Linked DNA regions of Homo sapiens: region 2 is linked to region 1. The links come from fine-mapping of genetic effects on gene expression. A gene starts in region 1. The other region holds a variant in brackets. All regions are shown on one strand. Distances are between the middles of the regions.

Evidence for each region. PIP is the estimated chance that this variant, and not a neighbour inherited with it, causes the effect.
Region 2: its variant is fine-mapped to the expression of C5orf15 in whole blood (INTERVAL, PIP 0.98).

The regions. Positions count from the first base shown.
Region 1 is chr5:133,959,657-133,972,219 of GRCh38, forward strand. C5orf15 (chromosome 5 open reading frame 15) reads right to left here and starts at 8,969. Exons shown (of 3, transcript NM_020199.3): 1 at 8,790-8,969; 2 at 1-364. The coding sequence starts at 8,928. It overlaps VDAC1 (voltage dependent anion channel 1), which reads right to left. Exons shown (of 9, transcript NM_003374.3): 9 at 12,215-12,563. LOC105379183 (a long non-coding RNA gene) reads left to right here and starts at 9,033. Exons shown (of 2, transcript NR_134247.1): 1 at 9,033-9,136; 2 at 10,095-10,567. RefSeq lists enhancers at 8,163-8,262, 8,893-9,112.
Region 2 is chr5:133,998,862-134,015,987 of GRCh38, forward strand. It overlaps VDAC1 (voltage dependent anion channel 1), which reads right to left and starts at 6,114. Exons shown (of 9, transcript NM_003374.3): 1 at 6,034-6,114. RefSeq lists enhancers at 4,838-4,887, 4,898-4,947, 6,598-6,717, 6,788-6,847, 6,888-6,957 and silencers at 5,178-6,217, 6,278-6,337, 6,378-6,427. The variant C/CA (reference allele first, on the strand shown) is at 8,381.

The DNA.
Region 1 (12,563 bases):
GTGTCATCAGACTCGTCGTCGTCCCTGGGGCCCGTGGTCCAGTCATAGTCTGGTTCTCCATAATCGCCATTGTCTAGAGTGTCTTTGGCTGTGGATGGAGAACTGTTCAGCATGAGAAGATCCTCCTCCTCTATACTAGGATCTTCATTGTTATCAGCTTCCTCTTGAGACAGAGGAGTAGGCGAGGGATGAGGGACCACAGATGCTCCTCCACTTTTCTTGGTACTCGTCGTGGGAGGGAGGGTGGTGCTGATTTGGGAAATAGAAGGTTTGGTTTGGTTTTCATGTGTTAAAGCATTCACATTTGGGGTAGAAATATGTGAGTTGAGTACGGTTGGGCTCGGTGAATCAGTCCGTGATACAACTGAAACAAACAAAGAATATCAAACTGAAATCTCCAACTTTATCTCCACCAAGCTAAAAGCATATTTACCCAAATTTTACACTAAGCATTTCTCTCTGCTACATTCCTATAACTTTCTCGAAAACTAGTTATTAAGTCTCAATAGCCAGCATTCAGTTACATTTCTTCTTAGTCAGTTATTCTTCAGATAATAATTGCTTTGCTAGATACTAACAATTTAAGCAGCATAAAAGACCTACTGCATCATACAGCCTGCCACCAAAAGAAAAGAAAAAGGGCTGACTTTAAGTCACGATGGCAAAGTTCACATACAGCCCTCACCCATCCCCTCTGTTTTCATTTCATAAAGGGTGTGGATTTCAGTTACCTTGTCCAGACTTTACCTGATCCCTAGAACAGACCAAAAAGTGGCTGATTCTCACTCAAGTAGGTCCCAAAAAAGATATGGAGTTTGGACCTAAATACTTTCAACACAACATAACAAATTCAGGGGAAGCTATAGGCATGCTGTAGATAGTAATTCTAAGTGATACTTGAACTAGAGGACTCCCTCTCCTAAATTCAAAAAAAAAGAAGGATCCTTACAAAGAAGAAAAAACTTCTAAAGGAGAAGCATCCGAAACGGGAACCTGAGAGCTAAGTGACAACTAGACTATTTTGAAGATGAGGGAAGGCATCTAGGTATAGCAAATGACACCAAATACACACACATTCTTATTTCCCTGTGCTGCTACCTACTCAGCATAGTTTACTAAAGGTAAAATTCTTTACATAAGAATTCTTACTATTCTTTTACCAAGAAGAATGAATAGAGGAAGATTCCAGAGGAATCCCTGCCGAAATTTAACCATCTCTAATTTATAATCTAATGTAGTATCTGTTGAAGAACTTCAAGGACCTCTACTACACTAAAAAAATAAAAAAAAAAAACCTCTGTCATGTAGATCTAAACATATTCAGACAATATTTTAAAGTCTATCACATTAAAGTAAAATATTTTATAGGGGTAAGATTAAACCAAGTCATTCTAGTGCTTTCACAAACATGTGCATTCACACAAGTTAACAATCCAACAGACAACCCTTTCTTCATGTGAATACACTCTGGTTTGTGTACCACAGTTGACATCCATTTTGTGTAGAAAAAAAAAGAAATAGCTGGTGTCAATTAGAATGAACAGAGGATCTCAGAAAAATAATGTAGTCAGTTAGTAAAAAAAAAAAAAAAAAAAAAAAAAAAAAAAGGCCAGGCCCTGTGGCTCACGCCTGTAATCCCAGCACTTTGGGAGGCCGAGGCAGGCTGAACATGAGGTCAGGAGCTCGAGACCATCCTGGCTAACATGATGAAACCCGGTCTCTACTAAAAAATACAAAAAATTAGCCAGGCATGGTGGCAGGCACCTGTAGTCCCAGCTACTCGGGAGGCTGAGGCAGGACAATGGCGTGAACCTGGGAGGTGGAGGTTGCAGTGAGCCGAGATGGCGCCACTGCACTCTAGCCTGGCCGACAGAGCAAGACCACATCTCAAAAAAAAAAAAAAAAAACCAATAAATTAGTAAAACTCTCTTTTTCCCTTTTTTTTTTTTGACAGGGTCTCACTCTGTTGCCCAGGCTGAAATGCAGTAGCACAAACATAGCTCACTGTAGCCTCGACCTCCTGGTTTCAAGCCCCCCATGTAGCTGGGACCACAGGCACATGCTACCCTGCCTGGCTTTTTTTATTTTTCATATATTTGTCCAATGCCATATGCAATTTTTTTTTTTTTTTGAGACAGCATCTTGCCATGTTGCCCAGGCTGCTCTCATATTCCAGGGTTCAAGAAATCCTCCCACCTTGGCCTCCCAAAGTACTGGGATTACAGTAAAACTCTTAAAACATTTTCAATAATTGAGTTCCTTGAAATTTTTTACTGGAAGAAAAGAGAAATAAACAGGACCTACAACTCAGTACATTACTCAGAAAACTACTAACAGGAATTTCTGAAAATAATTTTTGCATTTATCACTTCAACTTAGTTATAATTCAAGAATTTAAAAATTATTATTTTCTGATACATTTAATTTTCCTGCCAAAGTACAAAAAACATGTTTTAAAATAAAATTTAAAATTGAAATAAGTGGGAGCCAACTAACTAAACTTAACTTTTAAAAGAACAATTTTTCCATGGGTAAGTACCTTTAAAGGACACAAGCTGATAGGGTGGGAATAATTATAAAGAAATTTCCACCACGCAGTATAGAATTCACAGTCATCAGCAAATCCCTTCTTTCACCCTTTGCTTTCTTGTTATTACTGAAACCTGACTCTCCCTTAAGGACACATTTTCCTTTCAGCCTGTTTAAGTAATAGCTGTTTTTTCTCCCACATCCTTGAACCACTGAATCTCAAGGAGGCACAGTTCTCCTCCTCATTGCCCTTTTCAGACCATTCTCCCGTTCTTCTCCCTAAATGCCTCTAGCTTTGATTCTCTTATCTTAAGCTATAATGCACTAACTTACTTTCATCCAACTCCAAAGTCATGCCCCCTAATTCTTAATGATCTTTAGCTCCTGGCTCTAGAGTTCACTCCATCTAAGACAAGTACTCCTGCCTTGATTTCAAAATCTTTGACCTCCTCTCTTCTCATGAGCTAGCCCTCCTCTTTACCTCAGCCACTCACTCCCAGAGTCATTATTTATTATCACAATTCTTCCATAATCTCAATTTCATGCATTCTACTTGCTGGCAAGACCTCCTATCCTTCCAGTTCATTCCCTGGTATTCTCAATCCATAAACACCTACAACCCTCTAATCCTTTTCATTCCCTTACGGTCACCATCAAAACTTGCCCAATACACTCTCTTCTCTCTTTATTCAGATTCAATTCTGTGTCAGCTATTATAATTGCTTATAATCACTCTCTTACATCCATCTTCAATTCCCTTCCCCCTTGTCCACTTTGACCCATTCACTTGGTGAGACTACACTCATCCCTAGTTATTAATAAATCAAGCTCTCTGACTACTCACATCTGCACCCAGCAGCTGAACATGGCTAGAAAAAATATACAACCATGCCACTGTTTTCATTTCATTTTAAATTCAATGCCAAAGATTCAGGTGTATGTTTAAAGCTGTTGGCAATTAAAATTGTTGGCAATCATATTTTCCTAGTCCATTTACCCTTCTACTCTCTTAGGACACCAATCACATTTTCCTCTAACCACAAACTTCAAATGTCTTCTCTGTTATCCTCATTTTCAACTGATGACATCACTTCCTAACTTTTCTGAGAAAAATTAAAAGAACTTCCAAGAACGACCAGAATTCTAGACTCATAAATCCAACCACCTACTTGACATCTCCTCTTAGATGTCTGACATTCACATTAATATGTTCAAAATGAATTCTGGCTGGCTTTCAGGAAGACAAACACACTCTTCCCTGTTTCTCCCACTAAAAACAACTAAAAGCTCTGAACATTATGTATAAAATAACACAAGAACACTCTGAAAGGTGGAAAGAACTGGGTAGAACAGTTAGAGACCTCAGGATATGTGAAACAACATGGTGGTGACTTCCTTAGGTTTTTCTTTTTACCTCATATATCCCAGGCTAAAGACAAAAAATAAAAATGGCAGACTTCAGCTCTAACATATCCATAGTGCAGTAAATGTAAATGACCTAAATACATCAATTAAAAAACAGAGACTGGCAGACTCAACTACATGATGTCCATAGAAAGCTCATTTTATTTTTTTCTTTTTGAGACAGGGTCTCGCTTTGTCACTTAGGCTGGAGTGCTGCACAAACACATTCATAGCAGCTTTATTCATAATAGCCAAAAACTGGAAACAATCAGGCATCCTTCAACAGATAAATAAAGTGTAGTCTACCTATACCATAGAATATTACTCAGCAATTTAAAGGAACAAACAACCAGGACTGGTGGCTCACACCTGTAATCTGGGCACTTTGGGAGGCCAAGGCAGGTGGATCACAAGGTCAGGAGTTCGAGACCAGCCTGGCCAAAATGGTGAAACCCCATCTCTACCAAAAATACAAAAATTAGCTGGGTGTGGTGGTGTGCACCTACAATCCCAGCTACTCTGGAGGCTGAGACAGGAGAACTGCTTGAACCTGGGAGGCGGAGGTTGCAGTGAGCCGAGATCGTGCCATTGCACTCCAGCCTGGAGTGCAAGACTTACTCTCGAAAAAATAAAAGTTAAAATTTAAAAAGGAACAAACTATTGACACATGTAACAACCTAGGTGAATCTTCAGAGAATTATGCTAAGTGAAAAAAAGTCAATCCCAAAAGTTACATACTGTATTATTCCATTTATGTAAGATTCTCAAAATTACCAACTTATACAAATGGATAATTTGTGGTTACCAGGAGTTCAGGAGGGGTGAGGTAGGAGGGAAGTGGGGTGGCTTTATAAGGGCAATATGAGATATCCTTGTGGTGATGGTAATGCCCCGTATTTTGACTGTACCAATGTTAATATCCTGGTCGTGATATTGCACTATTGTTTTGAAAGACGTTACTATTAGGAAAACTGGGTAGGGGATATGCAGGATCTCTATATTATTTCTTACAACTGCCAAGTGAATCTATAATTATCTCAAAATAAGTTTAAATAAATTCCTATGCCCCACTCAAAAAACAAAAAAACTTGTTCTACTTAGTCTCCATCTCAATTAATGGCAACTACATCTTTGTAGTTACTAAAACTAAAAACCTTGGAGTTGTCATTTTTTTTAACATCCCACATCCAATCTGTTATTCTGACATATGCAGCATTTGAGGGCTTTTCACCCTCCACTGCTCCTGCCTCATCCAAGTAACCATTATCTCACATGGATTATTACAATAGCCTCCTAATTAATCTGCCTGCTTCCACCCTAACTTCTACTGTCTATACTCAACACAGCAGCCAGAGTCATTCTGTCAAAACTTAAATCAAATGTTACTCCTCTACTTAAGACCCTCTAGGGCCATCCATTTCTCACAAAAGTGAAAATTTTTATAATAGCCTTCAAGATCCTACATGATCTGGCCCCCATTACCTCACTCTCATTATCTTACTAATCTCCCTAACAGCTCTATCCCCATTACCTACTTAATAGATAGCAGGCACTCAATAAATATTTATTGAATATGCTCTCGATTCAACTCTCACCACAAATCCCACACCACATCCCACATAGCATCTATGCACCTACTGCACTCCCTCAAGAGCCCATGCCATGGTTCTCAGCAAAACGCCACTCATTCTTCTAAGGATACCCCCAGTATCACCCTATTCATTGTTTAACTCCAATACCTAGCACCAAGTAGGAGCAGAATGTCTTAGTCAAGCAGTAAAATCTTGGAAGTAATACACAAATACAGCACAAGAAAAAACAAATAATTGACCTGAAACATGTAATACAAAGGCTATCAACTTACTCAAACTCCTTCAAATCAGAGAAGTTGATTAAGTCAGATATGAAGAGTATTCAGAACAAAGGTACAACTCTGACTTTACGGATTTAACTGTTGACCTTCTATGAGCATATAAATAAGACTTCTAAATCTTCCCTTTCCTAATTGATATTACCTCTCTACTTGAAGCTTAACATTTTAAAAATAAAGCTTAGGCCGGACACGGTGGCTCACGCCTGTAACCCTAGCACTTTGGGAGGCCAGGGCAAGTGGATCGCTTAAGCACAGGAATTCAAGACCAGCCTGGCCAACATGGCAAAACCCCATCTCTACAAAAATACAAAAATCAGCTGAGCACGGTGGCAGGCACCTGTGGTCCCAGCTATTCAGGGGGCTGAAGTGGGAGGACTGCTTGAGCCCAGGAGGCGGAAGTTGCAATGGGCCAAGTTTGTGCTACTGCACTCCAGCCTGGGCGACAGAGCAAAACCCTGTCTCAAACAAACAAACAAAAAAGGCTGGGCACAGTGGCTCAGGCCTGTAATCCCAGCACTTTGGGAGGCCAAGGCGGGCGGATCACGAGGTCAGGAGATTGAGACCATCCTGGATAACACGGTGAAACCCCGTCTCTACTAAAAATACAAAAACTAGCCAGGTGTGGTGCGCGCCTGTAGTCCCAGCATACTCGGGAGGCTGAGGCAGAAGAATCACTTGAAACCGGGAGGCGGAGGTTGCAATGAGCCGAGATCACGCCACTGCACTCCAGCCTCGCGACAGACTCAAAAAAAAAACAAAAAACAAAACTTTATAAATTTAATTCTCCCCTTCTACTGGTCCCTTTTTAAAAACTGCCCTAAAATAAAACTATATCAGCATTTCTTAAACTTAAGAATGCAGAGGACCCCGAGAACTCATTCACACACTGGTTTGAGAAACAATGCCTTAAAAATGAAATGCATTATACATTAAGTTTAGGTGATCATTTGGGGACAATATAATGGCAAATGTAGAGAACCAGGCATTTTTGAAATGGCATGACCAAGAATTAGTCACCCAGTGATCCAAACTGCTTATGTTAATTTTTTAGACTTGATCAAAACAAAAACATAAAACAAAAATTCTTACAGACTGACGAGCATATAACCAAGCATTGACAGTTTTTAAAACCTAATATGGAACAAATTTAAATAAATCTAATGTGGTAACCTTCTACCTTTGTAAACTCACTTGAAATTTGGAACTCAACACATTCTAGACTAATTTTCTTATTACAGGAGTGACTACTTTGAAATTATAAGGTATGCTTACAAAAAATACTTATATCCCAAGCTACACTGTAGTGCAGTGGAGCTGCTCGCCTATTAAAGACATGTATGTTCGTTTTCATTTAGCTTCTTTTCAGGACAGAATAATCTGAATTTATGACATTTTAAACTGGTGTATGTAAAGACTTAATTTAAAAGATAAAGATTCTCTAAAATGTCTCAGTATAGTTAGAAAAATATTTATAGGGCTCTAACAAATAAAAGCAGAGACTAAAGGACACTTAACAGTCCACATTCTGCCTCACTTCTTGCCCAATTTTCAACCATCTCTTAGGGGAAAAAAGCTGTTTCTGAAACTACAGTTGCCAGATATATATCCCTTAAGCATTCCAGCAGGAAATATAAATGTTTGTGTTTTATTTTTCTTAGATGATTAAATGGCCAAAACAATTAAGCTACTTAAGTACTTTAGGAACGGGAATATCTGCATCAACCAGGGAAATCCTCATTACATTTCACTAATGATAAAAGGGCCTTAGGAAATGGACAGCAGTCCTTCCTCAGGGACTGCAAAGACTTCTGGGAGGGCGTCCAGTTAGCAACACTGAAATGTTGCTGAGGAAACATAAGTATGTACCCACAGTACTGTCGCAGAGGAATGTAGGGCTGGACAGGCCCTGCTGGCAAGAAAGAAAACACTATACCAGGTCACACTGTTTTGCAGCTGAAAATTCAAATTTAGGGAGAAACGCAGGACTGTGTCTTGGCCTGAAAGAAAAATGGGACTACTAAACAAAATACCGTTTAATCCTTACAAGTTCTTAATAGTGGATTTTTCCCACCAAGTATCAGGCACTGGTTTACAGATTTCCTAATTTCTCAATAAAAGCCTTCAATCTCTTGATTTCACCATGCAACATTTGCAAGAAATGAAATATTTTATCAATCAAATCCTACAGATGCATTAAAACGAGGCAGGGTTATCCTGGTTAACTCGGAACACAGGGAAGAGGAATCATGATCTCCCTTGTCTCCAAACTCCTCTCTGCCTCCCAAGCCTTCAGGGGCCCAACGCCCCAGTACTCTGAATCTTTATCAAACACCAGAACCTCCCAGTCTTCAAATATGCACCAGTACCCTAAGACAGCTCTTTCCCTTTCACTTTCCCTCTCGGAAATATTCCATTGGTTCAGTCCAGTCACTGGATTACTGCCCCTGCCCGCCTCGGTCTTTACCACTGACCTCTCCCATTCTGGAAAACCCCCACCTTTCCTTGGTCCTGCAAGATTCCTGAGTCCCCCAAACTCAGGACCCTTTCCAGACACCACACCCCCAGCCCCGGCCACCTCCTCAGCCCCTGTCGCCACCCTCTCTTCCAGAGTCTCCTAACTTTCCGATCCAAGAAATTTTGGAGACCCCACCACCGCCATTCCTTGCGGCAGCCCATTCTTCAACGATCTCTAGGCGCTAACACCACTCCTCCCTCCCCGCCCATCTACACACCCTGCTGCCTGCTCCCTGGGTTCCTGCATCTCTCAGGGACCCCGCTTCTCAGGCCCCTTGGAGACCCTACCACCTTGGACCCCTTCAGACACCATACCCTCCGTCCTCAGGCCCGCGGAGACCCTGACCCAACCAGACACCGCCGTCTGCTCCTGACACTTGGAAGCGCCCTTTCCCTGGCCCGGCCTGTCTCCTGCCCTGCGCCCGAGCCCTCCTAGCCTTCCTAAGCCCACACTGCCGCCCCCCTTTACCACTGGATAGAGCGGCGGACACAAGCAGGAGCGCCAAGACCAGCGGCCGCGCCAACCCCACAAGGGCTTGGATGGCCGACCCGGGCAGCAGTTTCGCTTGTGCTGGCCCCCTCATCCTCTTCGGGACGGCAGCGGCCATAACGGACTCGGCTGGGAGCCTGCGCTGTTGCTAGGCTCTACGCCATGAGGTCAGACGCCGCGGCCCTCGGCACATACGTCCCAGCGTGGTGACGTCGAAGCCTGGAGACGTGCTCTGGAAACCGGAATAAGAAGGAAGGATTGCAGGGAGGAGGGAGTTGCCGCTAGGCGAAAGTGGGGACCGCCACACAGTTGGCTGCGGATTAAAGGTAGGGTGTGACGTGCTGAAGAGGGCCAAAGCGAGCCCCTCCCTGCCGCCTGCATGATTGGGTACTATACAGCCAAAAATAGCGTTTTTAGCCATTTTAAAAAGGAAGATCCAGCTGTAGAACAGACTGATCACGAAAGCGAAGTAACTGCTCTTCCTCTCTCAAAGGCGAAAGAAACACAAATGTTAAGTAGTCCTATTTCGGTGATGGGATTATAAGTAATTTTTAAAAATCTTTCCCGACAGTCATTTATTTTTTTTCAACAAAGATTTAGCACCTCTCCCTATTTAAGATACAGCAGTGAACAAAAAGAACCCCCCACCCCCCCGCCCGCCTTGGCAGTTTATTTTCTTGTGAGGGCGAATATGGTGTAAAATACACACTATACAAGATGATAAAGATATTATGGACCGGCCCTAGTGCAGTGGCTCCCAGCACTTTGGGAGGCCGAGGAGGGCAGATCACCTGAGGTCCGGAGTTGGAGACCAGCCTGGCCAACATGGAGAAACCCCGACTCTACTAAAAATACAAAAATTAGCCAGGCGTGGTGGCGCGTGCCTGTAATCGCAGCTACTCGGGAGGCTGAGGTAGGAGAATCGCTGTAACCCGGGAGGTGGAGGCTGCAGGGAGCCGAGATGCCACTGCACTCTAGCCTGGGCCACAGACTCCGTCTCAAAAAAAAAAAAAAAATTATGGAGGAAAAGAAAGGAAGGTAGCTAGGAAGTAGAGGTGAGGGGCTGCCATTGAAAATAACTTTCAGATTTCCTAAAATAAGCTTCTCTTTTTAAATTTTGTTACTTGAAATCCCCAGTGTATAAAAATGCAAACTTACAAACTTCCAAGAAGTTCACCTAGGGCCCTGGCGCCATACTTTGCTCTGTGTGTACGTTCTGTAAATGTCTCCTTAATAAACAGATACAGGCTTCAATTCATAAAAGTTCCATTTGATCAATTTCAGGAAAATCAATGTGACGTTAAGCAAGACATTTATTGTGCCCACAGCTTCACCATTCTGGTCTCTATGATTCCCTGCGAAGATTGCTGTTATCCCCCAGAGACACAGCTGAGCTGTCTCTCTAAAGGGCCTGTGTTCTACTCCTGAATCTGGTTTCCCCTAAGCTTTTATCTCACCCTGGTGACAGCTCAGAAACACACAAACTCTGTGTTAAGAAAACTAAGAAGTCATTCATCTGCACATTTCCCGAAATCCCCCAGAAGCCCGTATTAGACTGAATGGTGTCCTTATTGCAAACTCTCCACTTTAGCCAAGGTGCAAAGTCCTCCCAGTCCCCCAGGAGCTTCCCTTCTCTGAGCGGTACTTAAGTTTTCTGTAAAACCACTCAGTTCAACAAATGAGCTTCTCAATCTTAGTTTCTGCTTGTTGACTTTAAAGTTAATCTATAATAAACACACTGCAGTCCTCTTCCCTGACTCATTGTCCACTTTGTCCATTTGTGTCCTCATACCAGATTGTCTCAATTCTCTTAACTGGTGAGATATTATGAACTCAAAGCATTTTGCACAATGATATTCCAACATGCTGCATGCAACAAGCAGACAATAAGTAACTAGTGAGGGAAATATTCCCTCATACTCAAGAGAACCCTTTATACATTTTTAAATATTTTAGGGCCAGGCTTATGCCTGTAATCCCAAGTACTCGGGAGGCTGAGATGGGAGGATCACAGGAGCCCAGGAGTTCAAGGCTGCAGTGAGCTATGATGATGACAGTGCACTTCAGTCTGGGTGACAGAGTAAGACTGTCTCTAAAAGTAAAATATCTTAATACTGTACCTGACATCTGACTAGATGTACCCAGCAACCACTATGTGCCATAATCTCTGGATAAATTCTATGAACATTCACTTAGAAATAGCTGCAAGTCCCTGAAGACAGTATGACAAATACTGAGGCCCACAGTTTTTGGGTGATCAGTTGCATAAAATGCTAAAATAGATGGTTCCTGTTTTGAATGTCACTTTCAAACATAGAAAAAAAAGGAATTCTGCTGAAAAATCATGAATGGAAAAAAATGTTCATATTTGTTGAAGCTGGATCATGCATAGAGTTTATTACTATTTGTGTTTCCACAATAGGCTGGATGTGGTGGCTCACGCCTGTAATCCCAGCACTTTTGGAGGCCAAGGTGAGCAGATCACCTGAGGTCAGGAGTTTGAGACCAGCCTGACCAACATGGAGAAACCCCATCTCTACTAAAAATACAAAATTAGCCGGGTGTGGTGGCAAATGTTTGTAATCCTAGCTACTCGGGAGGCTGAGGCAGGAGAATTGCTTGAACCCAGGAGGCGGGGAGGCTGAGGCAGGAGAATTGCTTGAACCCAGGAGGCGGAGCTTGCAGTGAGCAGACATTGTGCGCCATTGCATTCCAGCCTGGGCAACAAGAATGAAACTCCGCCTCAAAAAAAAAAAAATCCACCATCAAGTTATTAAAAACATATAAATATATGGGAGAATTCCAAAATCACCCCTTCCCATGACCCATATGGAGGGACCTACAAACATGAAAGGATATTACCAGTGATTAGGTTACTTTACCTGGCAGTTAACTTGAAGGGAGATTACCCTCATTGGGCCTAACCTAATCAGGTGAGTCCTTAAAAGAGTTGGGGCTCTACCTGGAGGAGACTGGAAGTGTGAGAGGGATTTCACATGAGGGAGTTTTTCTGTTTCTGGCTTTGGCGATGGAGGGGACCCCATGGCAAGGAATGCTGGCATCCTCTGAGCACTGAGAGTGGCTCAGCCAACAAAGAAATAGGGACCTCTGTCCTACAACTGAAAATAACTGAATTCCACCACAACCCTGAAAGCCTGGAAGAGGACGCCAAGCCCCCAGATAAAATGAGAAGACAGCCTGGTCGACACCCTAATTCCAGCATTGTGAGAAGCTAAGCACAGTCCAGGTAGGCATGCACACCTGCCTCGCTTTGACCTGCAGAACTGTGAAATAAATGAGTGTTGTTTTAAGCTGCTAAACATATGGTAATCTGTTGTACAGTGAGTGAAAACGAATAATATATAATACACAGAGCATGAAGACAAAATAAATCTAAACAAATGCCCTGTTTATTTATATTTTATTAATAAAGACAACAGAAGAAGGATGAGGTTTCAATATTTTATTCAAGTTTTTTAAGTGTTGTTAATTACAGCATTTGAAGGGGAGGATCTAATTCCAACAAAATGGAAGACTCTAAAATGTACCCATTAAACTGCTAAAAAACAAATTGAGTGGTGAGAATACAACAGAAGTCCAATTTAGATTCTGAGTGTTGTCACCATGTGATTACAATCACACAGACACTTCCAAGCTTATAGCTGGAGCTCCTGGAAGCTATTTCATACTCTGGTGCAAGGGCCAAAAAAAAACACAACACAAGAAGGAATAAGTCCTGAATTATTGGCTTCA
Region 2 (17,126 bases), 41 kb after region 1:
CCTCCTGCCCTACCTCTCAGCCTGTGCCTAACAGGCAGGGCTGCCCCCAGGTGCCACTGAGAAGCAGCAGCTCAGGGCGGTTCCTGCACTAAGCACCTACCAGGCCCCCGCCTGGTAGAAATATGCTCTCTTCTCTGCAGAGGCTCCCTCAAAAGGATTCAGGCATGTGCCAGGCATGGTGGCTCACGCCTCTAATCCCAGCACTTTGGGAGGCTGAGGCAGGAGGATCGCCTGAATGCAGGAGTTCGAGACCAGCCTGGGCAATACAGTGAGACCCTGTCTCTTTTAAATAAAAAATAAAAAGAAATAAATAGTAATAATAGAAGGATTCAGGCAGATGAGCTTTGCACCCCTAGAGAGCCAACAACTACTGCAATGGTTGATACAGGGAGCAGGGTGGCCATGGGTCTCCAAGACTCAGCTAAAAACAGCTGGGAGGAAAGGCCTTAGGCCTAAGGAAGTTGTTACAAGGAATGAGTGAAACAGGCAGAACAGCAGAAGTATCTGGCATGGAGTAAGTGTTCAACAAATGGCAGTAATAACCATAATCCACTACACTGGATACTCTGTCTGCCCCTCCAGATCCATTCTCCTCCCTTCCACCCTGCTCTGTGCCCCCAGAACTGATCATTATGGACTGCTGTCCATGGGCTTATGATTGGGCTTAGCCTTTCAACGTGAGGTACTTGCAGAAGACGGGAGTTTAGGGAAGAATGAAGTCGGGGTACTCACCCCGAGTCTCCCTCCCTGCTAGGCTTCAGATGGGCAATGACTACCTTCCTCTACCCAAGGCCACAGCTCCTGCCAAGAAGCTCCCTCTCTTGTAGGCCTCAGGGTGTTAACAGACCAGACCTGACACCCCATCCACAGCTTTGCAAATGATGTCTTCATTAAACTCTCCTGGATTACCAAGTGTAAGTGTGCACCAGATCCCTGCAAAGACGCTAACCAACAGAGCAATCACAACCATCATCATCATCATTGCCATCATCTTATGATTCTGCCAAGGAAGAGAGTACTATGGAAAAGTCTCTGGCCCCGCTGTTTCACCAACACCATTCTAGGTGGTTTGTCAGGGCAGAACTAGGCCAGCCTATAGGAGGGGTATCAGACCAGCCAGTGATCACAGAAACAGCACCTCTTCCTAGCCCTGAGGACCAGGAAAAGCAACTTCCCCAGCAGAAGGCAACCCTAGCTCTAAAAGCCAACATGGGGGCGAACACAATCAGCAGCTCGCTCACACACATGCACGCATGCACACACACACACTCCAGCACTTTCTCTTTCTTGCCAGGAAGAAACAACCCAGGGGAACAGTTCCTGGTTCAAGCTCCAGGATGCTGGCAAAGGCTGATGGCCCTGTGTTCTGGTAGCAGGTCTGCGTACCCAATGCAGCTGTTCTCTCCCTCCATTCTTCCACAACAGTCTCGCAGTGGGCAGTAGAGCTTTCCAGGGGTAGCTTCTATTTTGAAACACCCTGGCAGCTGGGCCACCACCAGCACAGCTGAGTTCCATGCTGAGCTCCTGGGCTCAAGAGGTTGCTGACTCAGGGCAGCCTGCCCACCCACCTATCAAGGGGAGATGGCCTGCGCTGGCAGCCAGTACACTATGGTCTGGATCCCAGGCATACCTGGGGCTCCTACCTGACCTAAGGCACCTCAAGTTCCCTGGAGCCTCACTGCTTGGCTTGACCAGGTAGGGTTGAGACAGACAGTGCTTGGGCAGGAAGCCTCGGGAATCAAATAGACCTGAGTTCTAACCCACCCCACCACTTTCTAGGTATGTGACTTTGGGCAAGTCGCAACCTCTCTACTCCTTTTTCTTCAGCTCTAATATGGAGAAAGAGAGCCTGGATGGCGTCACTGTGAGGACTGAATTAGCTCGTTAATATACAACACTTGGTACAGTGGCTGGCGCTTGGTAAGCAGGGAATACACACAGTATTTTATCACAAGTTTTCATTTTGTATATTTATTATAATAATGGCTGCTAAGCATGTTCAAAAGGTCACCCTGAACCACAGGGTCCAGAGTCCTTCATGTCCACAATGAGGCATTGTTTAGCTGAACAGGTCCTGAAAGAATGCCTCCCACCAGATCCCAGGGAAAACGGACCCTTATAATAGACACTCAGCACCACTGTCCTTGCAAGAAATAGAGGTGACTCCATTGTCCACTGCCAGTTGGCCCGCACACAGCCATGCACAAGTTCACTCTGACTGGTGTGGAAAAATAATGTCTCCCATCTGAACACCAATTTTGACTTTCCAAAAGGCATTCACATCTGTTAGCACCTTGCAAGGGTCCCTTGGAGTGCAACTGCAATGTGAGAGCACCACCATTCAGACCAGGCCTTGAATCCCAACTCCACTCCTGCCAGGCTGTGTTACCTCACCTCTCTGTGCTCGAGTCTGCTGACCTGTGAAATGGAAACACACTATCTCTCTCCCAGGGTATAGGGTGGTGAACTCAACATCACAGAACATTCGTTGAGCCCCCAGAAAGGTGCTGAGCAAGCCCTCAATCAGCAATCACTGTAATGACGACAATCATACTTTTATAGCAGACAAACTCGGCCGGGCTCAGTGGCTCACACCTGCAATCCCCGCACTTTAGGAGGCCGAGGCGGGTGGATCAGGAGGTCAGGAGTTCAAGACCAACCTGGCCAAGATGGTGAAACCCCATCTCTACTAAAAAATACAAAAAAATTAGCCAGGCATGGTGGCAGGCGCCTGTAATCCCGGCTACTCGAGAGGGTGAGGCAGAGACTTGCTTGAACCCGAGAGGTAGAGATTGCAGGGAGCCGAGATTGCACCACTGCACTCCAGCCTGGGCAACAGAGTGAGACTCCATCTAAAAAAAAAAAAAAAAAAAAGAGAGAGAGAAACTGAGGCACAAGACAGTGACTTGACCTGTATGAGACCGACCCTATGGCTCACCAGACCTGTGTTATGGGCCTAAGCTACTCTCCAGTGCTCTTTCCAGCACAGTTCTGAGTAAAGAACTTAAAGTCCCACTCATCCCAAACCCCCTGAGTACGTGGTAAAATGGAGAAATGCGCCCAGACCCAGCTGAGGAGCCCACTGGTCAACTTTTCTCAGTGGCTACCACAGGACTCCATGGAAAACCCAAAGCCGCAGACTACAGAATCTCTGAGCACCAGGAGGGGCTGCCTCCAAGCTTCGGCTGGTCCTCAACCACACATGCGCCTCTTCCAGTCACTACCACCGAAGACACTACACCACGGGAAATTCCATCAAAGGCGAAGTGGACTTCAGTGCTTCAGGAGCATCTTCCTGGTAAGGGTAGAGGTTGGATGCCCTTCACCTCCCCAGCATGGAGTTCACTGTCCACACCTGCCTAGTGTTCAGCAAGGCCAGGGGCCCACAGGCACCTCATCCCTGTATGGTCCCCCACTTTCTGAGCTACGAATAACCCCTGCCTATAGCCCCACTCTAGAATAGCAAAAATAAAACTAAATAATCAACAAGGAGTAGTCCCCACTACCCACAGGCAGGCACCCTACTCAGGACAACCCCAGCACAAGCTGTCCATCCACCCACCATGAGGGAAGGGGTAACAGGCCCAACACCTTCTGTAGAATCCCAGTCACCCATGTCACCCTCCCTGCAAGCCCAGAAACACCAGTTCAACAAGTTTCCCTCGGGACTTGGAAAACCAGAGAATGAAGACGATGTGTTTAAAGCACTTATTTCAAGAGACTATACATACTGTTACAGTTCTTTAAATATTTGTGACTCTCTGCTAGGTGAGGCTGTTTTCCACAAGTGAGATGTCTGTGTCCCTCAAAAGGATGTCCAGGACCGGGCATGGTGGCTCACGCGTGTAATCCCAGCACTTTGGGAGGCGGAGGCGGGTGGATTGCTTGAGGCCAGGAGTTTGAGATCAGCCTGGCAAACATGGTGAAACCCCGACTCTACTAAAAATACAAAAATTAGCCAGGCGTGGTGGTGTGTGCCTGGGATCCCAGATACTCTGTGAGGCTGAGGTGGGAGGATTGCCTGAACCCAGGAAACAGAAGCTGCCATGAGCCGTTATGGTGCCACCGCGCTCCAGACCTGGCAACAGAGCAAGACCCTGTCTCAAAAAAAAAAAAAGTCCAGGATCAAAGGACTATGGTCTGGGCCTGCAGCCCTTCATATGCCCATTCAATAATTCCACAAATACTCAATAAGCACCTACTATGGGCCATGTACTGGAATAGTAAAACTCTGTCAGTAAAGATGGGTGGATTCTGACACAAGAGTGCATTTACCCCCACAGACCCTTCTCAAGCACCTACTGTGTGCCAGGCAGCACCACCCCAGGCACTGAAGACAAAGTAGCACAGGGCCTCAGTGCCTCAGTCTGACCCTTAGGAGCTGAGTTGGTCCAGAGCTGGGGTGGGCAGAATGAAGGCTGGCCCTCGGTAGTCTGCTCTGGCCTTCTCCTGCCTCAGTGGAGAAGTTTAGGCAACAGAGGAGCCCTTTCCCCTATCTCCCCAGGAGAGGGGAGGCTAGTCAAGGGGACAGGGACCCCGGGCGGAACGGGCTCTAAACCAGGGTCTGCTCCTGCATTCAAGATCTCCACATGCAAACTTACTGCTCCAGCTTGACAATGTCCATTTGTAAACTTACAAGATTTTTCATAAATTAAGCTGAAAGTTACTCAATACCTGGTATACAAATGCTTGTCAATAATAGTGAAAGAATGTTTAAAAACAGGAGCTACATTTATTGAACCCCTTCCACAACGCCACGTGTAGCAAAATGGTCTGCGGGGGATGGGCTGGATTCACCCAAAAAGCCCCAAGGGTGTCAGGGTTTCTACTTAGCCCTTCTCCACACCGGCACTGTTCTAAAGGTTTCATGCTAATTAATTCATTTTATTATTCCCCAAAACTCATCGAAGGAGAGGTACAATTGCTCCCGTCCTATAGATGAGAAAACGAAGGTATGGGGACTTCCCAGCTGTGTGACCTTGTACAAACCACTAAGACTGCGGGCCTCTAATCCAAAGTCAGGCTCCGAAACAGTTTCCAGAATGCACCGCCGCATTTGGCGAATGAATGAACGACCGAACCAGTAATCACTCCTAAGACCAAGAAGGCCACATCCTTCCCCGTGGGGCCTCCTTTTCCGAGGCCAAACCTTCAGCCCAGGCCCGAGCTCCGGCCTCTACCGCCTAAGTCGACTCTCGGCCGGCGCGTTCCGCTCTAGAAGGCTCTGGCACAGGCGGGCGGTGCCGGGCGCCAGCTTCTGCGGGCGTGGGCCGGCCAGGGCGCGTGGGCCTGGGGACTCGGGGCCACGGTCGTCACGTGAGCTCATCCCCGAGGCGGCAGCGTGGCCGGCACCCGCCCGCTGGCCTGGTCCGGCGAGCGTGGGCGGCGAACGGGTCCCCGCCGGATGCACGCTGGTGGGATCCAGGGCCAGAGGGCGCCGCCGGGGAAGGTCACCTAGACGCGCGGCCCGCCGGGCCTCCACGCGGCCGCCCTTGCACTTCCGCCCGCAAGCCCGGGCCGCCTCTCGCCGCCAGCCGCAGGCGTCTCTGGACCCTCGGCCTCGCGCTCCCCAGCCCAGACCTGTTCGGCACCCGCCTGTGCGGCCTTCTCTGCCCGCCCGCTCACCAGCCAGGCCCGCGCCGGCCGCTCGCGATCCCTCCCCGCGGCCGGGCTGCCGGGGCCCCTCGCCCGCTCCTCCCTCAGCGCCTCCCTCTCAGCTCCCCAGGGGCCTGGCCCCCGCCGTCCAGGGCGCAAGGAAGCCGGGGTCCTTTTCCGCTGCGCCTACCTCAGAGGATGTGGCGGCGGGCTCGGAGGCGGCTACGGCGGGGGCTGCGACGCGGAGGCAGGGAGCCGAGCCAGGGAGCGGAGCCGAGCGAGCGGCTGGGCCAAGGGCGGGGCGGCGCGGACGGCGGCGGCGCGGACCCGCCTCCCCTCCTGCGCGCCCGGCCCGGCGCGCTCCGCCCCCAGGCCCCGCCCGGGACAGCGTCCAGGCCGGGCCAGGGTCCCCATCCCGCTAGCGAGCCGCGTTCTTACCCTTCCGGGCCCCGCTGCCCCGGCAGCAGACACAGGAGCCTGCGGGCGTGTTGCGGGCGCGCGGGAGGACCTGCGTGAGTCGGGGCACGGGGAGGCGCCGGACTGACGTGTGCACCGTGTGTGCGTGCGCAGGGACACGCGGGTTCTTGCTGGAAACCTCGGCCCCAGTGGCAGCGCTCGGGAAGGGGGAGGAGGCCTTCCGATTCTCTGAGCTGTGGCCCGGAGGTCCCTGCGCTAATGGAAGACGCGCGGGGCTCCTGGGCCTCCTGCTTGGCCTCCGCGCTGCTAGATCCCCCGGGAGTTGATGTGGCCGGCGCTGGACCCAAGCCTCGCCTGGGTGGACAAAGTGGCCCCCGGCCCCCCATCAAAGCCCGCGTGGGCCCCATCCCCCGAGGGCAGTCCCAGGCCCAGCGCGGACACTGGGCGCCTGGGGCGGCGCAGATACAGAGTAGAGGCGGCGACTGTTGCTCCCGAGCTCCGCGCTCCGGATACAATGTGTCTGGCGCCTCCGACCCGCCCGCGCGGCGTCTAGACAATCTCAGAGAAAACCCCTGTGCGCCGATTTTGCACTACAGATTAGCGATTTTCTCCTGTAGCAAAGCTACTAGCAGCCAATTTCCATGCATTTGAGAGGCAAAAAGACAAAATAAAACAAAACGTGGATTGGGTTTTGCGAGGTCCCTGCTGGGTCTCTCGGCGCGAGGAGATCACGCCGGTTATGGCCGGCCGGCCGACTGAGGGCACCCCGGGTAACCCCCGCGACCAGCCGGGGCGTGTCCTGCGGGACCCAGTTAGTGTGTGTTGAGTGAACGGTCACCTCGCTGCTAGGCCTAAGCGAGTGGTCTCGTTCACCACTGAGTGTCCCCTGTGTTACGCGCGAGGCCCACTCGAAGCAGGTTTCGAGAATTAATTCGTAGATGGACGAAGATTCTACACATCCTTCGCCTTTGATCAACAAACGTCCTGGAAGGCTTGAGGCGTCTAGGGCCCTGTGGAGGAGGTGCCGGGTTACAGAATCAGGACACTCCTCACAGCCAGCTGCGACACTATCTAAAGCAGTGGGCAACTGGGGCTACGGAGGAGGCAATCAGGACTGGCTGCTGGGAAAAGGCGGCAGATTAAAAGTGGCGACTGGAGTTGGAAAAGGTGCTCCAGTGGGATAGGGTGCTGAGGAAGAGGGCAGCTGATACAGAGTGGGAGTGGGGTGCAGACAGGTTACCTAGGCCCTGTGTAGGGGCTGGGGGAGGGGTGACTGGGAATGTAAGGAAGAGCCCCCTTCAAGATCCTGAGGAGTGTAGGACGGATTCTATGACCCTCCCAGGCGCACGAGTTGCCTGGGAACTCTGGGCTTCCCAGCCTGGTGGTCCCCACCCCGCACACTGAGACTGGTGGGCAGGGGGAGGACAAGAACTCAGGGAGGCCGGGCGGGACAAGGCGGGGCTCCAGGAACCCCACAGGGCTAGGAACAGATGCCGGTGCAACCCAGTTTTGAGGCTGGGAGCAAATGTCGAAGGGCTTCCTCCCCTCCAGCGCCACCTCTCAACTCCGCTTTAAAGAACCAATCTGGGCCGGGTGCAGTGGCTCAAGCCTGTAATCCTAGTACTTTGGGAGGCCGAGACAGGCAGATCACTTGAGGCCAGGACTTCGAGACCAGCCTGGGCAACATGGCAAAACCCTGTCTCTACTAAAAATACAAAAACTAGACGGGCGTGGTGGCGCGCGCCTGTAGTCCCAGCTACTCAGGAGGCTGAGGCACGAGAATCGCTTGAACTTGGAAGGAGGAGGCTGGAGTCAGCTGAGATTGAGCCGCTGTACTCCAGCCTGACTGACAGAGTGACATTGTCCCCCCCCCCCAAAAAAAAAAAACAAAAAAAAACAACAACTTGGAAAGAGTTCTTCATGGCCTCTGCTACCCTGGGCCCCTTCGCCAGCTCCCCTAGGTGCTAGTTTCAGATTAACCACTCACTTAGTGGCTGCGTGACCCAGGCAAGAAGGCTGGCCTCTAAGAGCCTCAGCTTCAGAGTGTTGGTGTAAGTTTAAAATGGGACACATAAAGAGTAGGCACTCGGCCCCGTGCAGTGGCTCACTCCTGTAATCCCAGCACTTTGGGAGGCTGAGGCGGCTGGATCACCTGAGGTCGGGAGTTCGAGACCAGCCTTACCAACATGGAGAAACCCCGTCTCTACTAAAAATACAAAAATTAGCCGGGCATGGTGGCACATGCCTATAATCCCAGCTACTCGTGAAGCTAAGGCAGGAGAATTGCTTGAACCCAGGAGGCGGAGGTTGCGGTGAGCTAAGATCTCACCATCACACTCCAGTCTGGGCAACAAGAGCGAAACTCTGC[C/CA]AAAAAAAAAAAAAAAGAAAAAAGAGTAGGCACTCATCAGTAACTGGGCCAGGCTCAGAGGCACATGTGGGTAATCCCAACTGTTTGGGAGGCCAAGGAGGTAGGATGGCTTGAGGCCAGGAGTTCGAGGGTGCAGTGAGCTAGCATCCCACTACTGCACTCCAGCCTGGACCACAGAGCAAGTTCCCGTCTCAAGAAATAGTATTAGTAATTTTTTAAAAAACAAAATCAGCTGAGATCTGCAGGTGCCATAATCACTAGAATCCATTGACCCACCACAACCCTGAGGGAGAGGGGAAACCCCCTGAGCCCCACCTCCATTCCATCTGCCACAGCTGATTGGGTCAGGGTTGGGCCCCTGACCCAAGCCAGGTCAATCAGATCCTCTCTTGCAAACCTGAACTGAGAAACCCAGGGATGAGTATGGCAGAGGGGAAAATGCGGGAGCTTTCAAGGCCCTTGGGGAGACCTGGGTCTGGCATCCCTGTCGGTGTTGCGAAGTTAACGAGGGCTTTTCACAGAACAGAGAATGGAGCAGCCGCTGCAGAGGGTGGCTCTGGGCCCCTGTTCCTTGAGTGCCCCCCTGTTCTTGCCATGCGTGGGTTTCCCTGTTCCACTTCAATAACCCCACTTGAGCTTGACCCAGCTAGAGCAAGTCCCTGGCGAAGACAGTCAAATCTTGGTGGGTGGAGAAGGAGGTTTGTGGGGACAGGACAATCCTAACCTCAGTTTTTCTCTGGGCGAATGACCCTGTTTCCCTCTCCTTTTGGTCAGCAAGCTTTCATGGAGCTGACTCCATCCCTGACTCCAAAGCCTTCCTGGGAGTGGCCACATGGCCCAGTCTGACCAATTAGAGCCCTGTATACCTCTCCTGCCCCCGCCTCTCCGCCCCCACATCCTGGCCTCCCACCGCCCCCGATCCCCGCCCCGCAGGGATGGACCAATGAGACCAGATGAGAATTCCTGGGGCTACAGGAATAAAGACTCCCTGAAAATGAAGTAAGCCCATAAGAGAAAGGCAGAGATGAGGTCCTGAATCTAGCCATGCCGGAGACTACACCCTGTACTTACCAGCTGCCTGAGCCAACGGCCTCCTGTTTTGCCTAGTCCAGTTTGGATTGTTTTCTTCCAGATGCTAACTCAGTTCCTCTCCTCCATTCAAGAAGAACAATGTAAAACATCCAGGGAAAATGAGATTTTTCTTTCATTGTTAATATTGGAATGGGTTACCAATGTAAGACTATTTCATTTTAGGGAGTTTTTGGTTTTTGTCTTATCTCTAACTTACAGCCTTAGGGCTTCTACTGTAGATATTTATCAAAGTGGAAAGCAGCCAATTTATGATCAGAATCATAAACCTATTCCACCCCCCTTTCAAGAACATAGGATGAAACACTCCCAACTCTTCTCTTTTCAGAGCCAGATGTCCCTGGATTTCTATGTGGTTTCTTAGCATTGTCTGTGCTAAGTACCAGAGCTTGAAGATGAAGTTCATGAAGGCAGAAATGGTAGTCATTTATGTAAATTAATTTTTAAAGAGAAAGATATTCTGCTTGTAACCAGCATCAATTAATTGGATTATAAAGTTGCATTGTCATAAAACCTAACTTTCCAATCATTTTCCAGTGAACTCCTCAGACTAGAGTCTGGGTAGGAAGAATCAAGATGGCGTGTTTGTGGTCAAGGATCTCAGGCCACACTCCCCACACTGTGCCCTGACACTCAGCATCCAGGGAAGGACCCAGCTGGGCCTCCAGGTTCTGAGTGACAGCAGTAATCTCTTGGGGAAACAGGACAGAAAGCATCCCAAGGTAAACACAATTGATAATATTCTCCTGCATATCCCAAAACATGAGGTGTCCTAGATCTAATCTAAAACAATTCCAAGAAGCTCCAACATCATAGCTATGATTTTTAAGAATTTTGTATATATATACACAGAGAGACAAATATTGGAAAGAAATGTATTAAGTATTAATGAAGTATTTATGGGAATTTATCAATTCTTTTTTTTTTTTTTTTTTTTTTTTTTGAGATGGAGTCTCTCTCTGTAGCCCAGGCTGGAGTACGGTGGCATGATCTTGGCTCACTGCAACCTCCGCCTCCCAGGTCCTGGTTCAAGCAATTCTGCCTCAGCCTCCCAAGTAGCTGGGATTACAGGTACACGACACCATGCCCAGCTAATTTTTGTATTTTTAGTAGAGATGGGGTTTCACCATGTTGGCCAGGCTGGTCTCAAACTCCTGACCTTGTGATCTGCCGGCCTCCGCCTCCCAAAGTGCTGGGATTACAGGTGTGAGCCACTGCACCCAGCCAGAATTGATCAATTCTTATAAATTGAAACATAATTATTAAGTTGTGTTTCTATTTATGAGACTATGAGTGATTTTTTCCTTTGGCTCTTTTTACATTTCCCAAATATTCTTTTGTTTGTTTGTTTTGTTTTGTTTTGTTTTTTGAGACAGAGTCTCCCTCTGTCACCCAGGCTGGAGTTCAGTGGCACCATCTCGGGTCACTGCAACCTCCACCTCCCGAGTTAAGCTATTCTCATGCCTCAGCCTCCCAAGTAGCTGTGACTACAGGTGCGTGCCACCACGTCTGGCTAATTTTTGTATTTTTAGTAGAGATGTGGTTTTGCCACGTTGGCCAGGCTGGTCTCAAACTCCTAACCTGAAGTAATCAACCTGTCTTGGCCTCCCAAAGTGCTGGGATTACAGGCATGAGCCACCAGGCCCAGCCTCCAAATATGCTTTAATGAGGACATAATACCTTGATTATAAAAAGAGCGAACTTTTTTCAGCTTTAAGAAAGTCATATGAGGTTCATCAGGAGATGTGTAAAGTGATACAATCCTTCTGAAAAGCAATTAGGCTATATGCGATCAGAATCATAATCCTATTCCACCCCCCTTGATGCTGGGAACCCACGCTAAGACCATCATTGTAAGTATGGGGAATGCCTGCTGCAGGAAAATGGACAGCAGCCCAGGACGGAACACAACCTGGTTTCCAGCTTGGGCATATTGAATCACTCACAACCTTGAGGAAATATGGTTACAAAAACTTCCTGTGGGGGTCCGGGCGTGGTGGCTCACACCTGTAATCCCAGCACTTTGGGAGGCTGAGGCGGGCAGATCACCTGAGATCAGGAGTTTGAGACCAGCCTGGTCAACATGATGAAACCCTGCCTCTACTAAAAATACAAAAATTAGCCAGGCATAGTGGTAGGCGCCTGTAATCCCAGCTACTCGGGAGGCTGAAGCAGGAGAATGGCTTGAACCCGAGATGCAGAGGTTGCAGTGAGCCGAGATCACACCATTGCACTCCAGCCTGGGGGACAAGAGCGAGACTTTGTCTCAAAACAACAACAACAACAACAAATTTCCTGTGGGGAAATATTTCTGTTACAATGTTAATGGAAGGCAATCTATGTTCAGTATTACTTCAACCCCAACATTAAAAACTGTGGAGGCAAACTATGGTAAGTACAACAATGGCCCCCCAAGGATATCCACATCCTACTCACTGGAACCTGTGAATGTAAAAAACAAACAAAACAAAACAAAAACTACTTCATTGGGATAGGATTGCATACAAAAAGCTGTACATATTTAATATATATATGTTGATGAGTTTGGAGATAAGTATATTTCCATGAAACCATCACCACCGTAAAGCATATAAACATACCCAACACCTCCCAAAGTTTCCTCCCCTACCCCCATTCCCTTTTTTTTTTTTTGTAGGGGCACTTAAGATCTATCCTCTTGGCAAATCTAAGTATACAGTGCAGTATTGTTAGCTGTAGGCACTGTGATGTATAGTAGATGATGATTAGTGATGATGAACATTTTTTAATATGTTTCTTGGCCACTTGTATGTCTTCTTTTGAGAAGCACCTGTTCATGTCCTCTGCCCACATTTTTTTCTTTGTTTTTAGTAGAGATGGGATTTTGCCATGTTGCCCAGGCTGGTCTCAAACTTCTGAGCTCAGGCAGTCTGCCTGCCTCAGCCTCCCAAAGTGCTAGGATTACAGGTGTGAGCCACTGCGCCCAGCCCCCTCTGCCCTCTTTTTAATGGGGTTATTTGTTTTTTTGCTTGTTGAACTCTTTAAGTTCCTTATAGATTCTAGATATTATACCTTTTGTCAGATGCATAGATCTCCAGAATTTATTTATCTGGCGTAACTAAACCTTATACCCTTTGATCATCACCTCTCCATTTTCCCTTCCCTCCAGCCCTGAAGATTACCATTGTACTCTCTGCTTCTATGAGTGTGATTATTCTAGATTGTACATTTAAGTGAGATCATACAGATGTTACGGATCTTGACATGGGGGGATTGTCCTAGATCATCCAAGTGTGCCCAATGTAATCCCAAGAATGTCATCACAAGTTCTTTTTTTTTTTTTTTTTTTAGACAGAGTTTTACTCTGTCACCCTGGCTGGAGTGCAGTGGCGTGATCTCAGCTCACTGCAACCTCCGCCTCCTGGGTTCCAGCAATTCTTATGCATCAGCCTCCCAAGTAGCTGGGATTACAGGTGCCCACCACCAGGCCCGGCTAATTTCTGTATTTTTAGTAGAGACGAGGTTTCACCATGTTGGCCAGGCTGGTCTCAAACTCCTGACCTCAGATGATCCACCCACTTCAGCCTCCCAAAGTGCTGGGATTACAGGCATGAGCCACCATGCCCGGCCTACAGTTCTTATAAGAGGAAGACAAGAGGGTCAGAGTGAGAGAAGGTGATTTAATGACAGAAGCAGAGCAGGGCAGGGGTGGGGAGAGAGACAGAGAGAGAAAGAAAGAAAAAGAGAAAGAAAGAAAAAAAGAAGAAAGAAAGAGAGAGATTGGAGATGCTACACCGCTAGCTCTGAAGATGTAAGAAGGAGCCATGAGCCAAGGAATGCAGGCAACCTATAGAAGCTGAAAAAGACAAGGAAACAGATTCTCCTCCCAAGGCCTCCAGAAGGAGGGAGCCCTGATGCCCACTTAATTTTAGCCCAGAGAGACTGATTTCAGACTCCTGACCTCTAGAACTGTAAAATGATAAATCTGAGTTGTTTAAACCACTGAGTCTGTGGTTCACAGTTACAACACAATAGGAAGTGTTACAACAGCAATAGGAAACTAATATACAACCTCTAAAAGACAATTCTAGAAATGATTTATTAGAATGGGGCTATAGTATGAATGTTTACTCCCAAAATTGATATGTTGAAATCCTGAGTCCCAAGATGACGGTATTAGAAGGCAGAGGTTTTGAAATGTAATTATCATTAGGGCAGAGGCCTGAGAGCTTGTTCACCCTTTCCACCATGTAAAGACACAGTTAGAAAGCATCATCTATGTGACACAAGCAAATGGAAAAACACTCCATGCTCATGGATTGGAAGAATCAATATCATTAAAATGTCCATACTGCCAAAAGCAATCTGCAGATTTAATCCTGTTCCTATCAAACTAACAACATCATTTTTCACAGAATTAGAAAAAAAACTATTATAAAATTTATATTAAACAAAAAAAAGAGCCAGAATAACCAAAGGATCCTAAGCAAAAATAACAGAATTGGAGGCATCACATTACCTGACTTCCAACTATACTAAAAGGCTACAATAACCCAAACAGCATAGTACTGGTACAAAAACAGACACATAGACCAATGGAACAGAATAGAGAACACAGAAATAAAGCCACCCTCCTACAACCAACTAATCTTCAACAAGTTGGACAAAAATAAGCAATGGGGAAAGGACTCCCTATTTAATAAATGGTGCTGGAATAACTGGCTATCCATATGCAGAAGAATGAAACTGGACCCCTGCCTATCACCATATACAAAAATTAACTCAAGACGGATTAAAGACTTAAATGTAAGACTTCAAACAATTAAAATCCTAGAAGAAAACCTAGGAAATACCCTCCTGGGCATCAACCGCGGCAAAGAATTTATAAATAACTAAGTCCTCCAAAGCAGTTACAGCAAAACAAAAATCAGCCTGAACAACATGGCAAAAACCCGTCTGTACAAAGAATACAAAAATTAGCCTGGCATGGTGGTGCACACCTGTAGTCTCAGCTACTCAGGAAACTGAGGTGGGAGGATCACTTGAGTCCAGGAGGTCGAGGCTGCAGTGAGCTATGATCGCACCTCTGCACTCCAGCCTTGGTGACAGAGTAAGACTGTGTCTCAAAAACAAACAAACAAACAAACAAAATTGACAAGTGGGACCTAATTAAACTTAAGAGCTTCTGCACAGCAAAAGAAACTATCAACAGAGTAAACAGACAGCCTGCAGAATGGGAGAAAATATTTACAAACTACGCATCTAACAAAGCTCTAATATCCAGAATCTATAAGGAATGTAAACAATTCAACAAGCAAAAAACAAAGACCCCCATTAAAAAGTGGGCAGAGGGCTGGGCACGGTGGCTCACACCTGTAATCCCAGCACTTTAGGAGGCCAAGGCAGGCAGATCACCTGAGGTCAGGAGTTCAAGACCATCCTGGCCAACATGGTGAAACCCCATCTCTACTAAAATACAAAAATTAGCCAGGCATGGTTGCGGGCACCTGTAATCCCAGCTACTCGGGAGGCTGAGGCAGGAGAATCACTTGAATCCGGGAGGCGGAGGTTGCAGTGAGCTGAGATCGTGCCACTGCACTCCAGCCTGGGTGACAGAGTGAGACTCCGTCTCCCATCCCACCCCCCGAAAAAAAGTGGGCAGAGGACATGAACAGGCACTTCTCAAAAGAAGACATACAGCCAGGCATGGTGGCTCACGCCTGTAATCCCAGCACTTTGGGGGGCCAAGGTGGGCGGATCACCTGAGGTCAGGAGTTTGAGACAACCTGGCCAACATGGTGAAACCCCGAGTCTACTAAAAATACAAAAATTACCCAGGTGTGGTGGCACGCGCTTGTAATCCCAGCTACTCAGGAAGCTGAGGCAGGAGAATCACTTGAATCCGGGGCGGTGGAGGTTGCAGTGAGTCGAGATCGTGCCACCACACTCCAGCCTGGATGACAGAGTGAGACTCCGTCTCAAAAAAATAAAAATAAAAAGACATACAAGTGGTCAACAAACATGAAAAAATGCTCATCATCACTAATCATCAGATAAATGCAAATCAAAACCACAATGAGTGCCACCTCACGCCGGTCAGAATGGGTATTATTAAAAAGTTAAAAAATAGTTGTTGGAAAGGCTGCAGAGAAAAGAGGATGCTTATACACTGCTGGTGGGAATGTAAATTAGTTCAGCCAGTGTAGAGAGCAGTTTGGATATTTCTCAAAGAACTAAAAATAGAACTACCATTCCACCCAAAGGAAAATAAGTCATGGCTGAGTGCGGTGGCTCACACCTGTAATCCCAACACTTTGGGAGGCTGAGGCAGGCGGATCACAAGGTCAGGAGTTCAAGACCAGCCTAGCCAACATAGTGAAACCCCGTCTCTACTAAAAATACAAAAATTAGCCGGGCATGGTGGTACACGCCTGCAGTCTCAGCTGCTCAGGAGGCTGAGGCAGGAGAATCGCTTGAACCTGGGAGGTGGAGGTTTCAGCGAGCCAAGATCGTGCCACTGCACTCCAACTTGGGCAACAGAGTGAGACTTCATCTCAAAAAAAGAAAATAAATCATTCTACCAAAAAGACAAATGCACATGTAGGTTTGTCACAGCGTGATTCACAATAGCAGAGACATGGAGTCAACCTAGGTGCCCATCAGTGGTGGATGGAATAAAGAAAATATGGTACATATATATGGCGGAATACTACACAGTCATAAAAAATAATGAAATCATGTCCTTTGCAGCAACATGGATGCAGCTGGAGGCCATTATTCTGAGTGAATGAATGCAGGAATAGAAAACCAAATACTGCATGTTCTCACTTATAAGTGGGAGCTAAACATTGGATACACATGGACATAAATATGGGAACAATAGACACTGTGGACTACAAGAGAGGGGAGGGAGGGAGAGAGGGGGGCAAGGGTTGAAAAACTACCTGTTGGGTACTATGCTCAATACCTGGATGACAGGTTCAATCATACCCCAAACCTCAGCACCATGCAATATACCCTTGTAACAAATCTGCACACGTAACCCCTGAATCTAAAAGAAAAATTGAAAAAAGAAAAATAAAGTGCCATCTATGAACCAGAGAGCAAGCCCACAACACACATTGAATCTTCTGGAACATTGATCTTAAACTTCCAGCCTCCAGAACTGTGAGAAATAACTTTGTTATTTATAAGCCACCCAGTCTATGGCATTTTGTCATAGCAGTCTGGATGAACTAAGGCAAATGGCAAGGTTGTAAGGAGCACCTGTAATCCCAGCTATTCGGGGGGCTGAGGCAGGAGAATTGCTTGAACGATTTTTTTTTTCTTTTTTGAATCACTTTTTTATTTTTTGAGACGGAGTCTCGCTCTGTCACCCAGGCTGGAGTGCAATGGCACCATCTCAGCTCACTGCAACCTCCGCCTCCCGGGTTCAAGCGATTCTCCTGCCTCAGCCTCCCGAGTAGCTGGGACTACAGGCACACGCCACCACACCCAGCTAATTTTTGTATTTTTAGTAGAGACGGGGTTTCACCATATTGGCCAGGCTGGTCTTGAACTCCTGACCTTGTGATCTGCCTGCCTCGGCCTCCCAAAGTGCTGGGATTACAGGCATGAGCCACGGTGCCCCGTCTACACCCAGGCAATTTTTGTATTTTTTGTAGAGATGGGGGTTTGC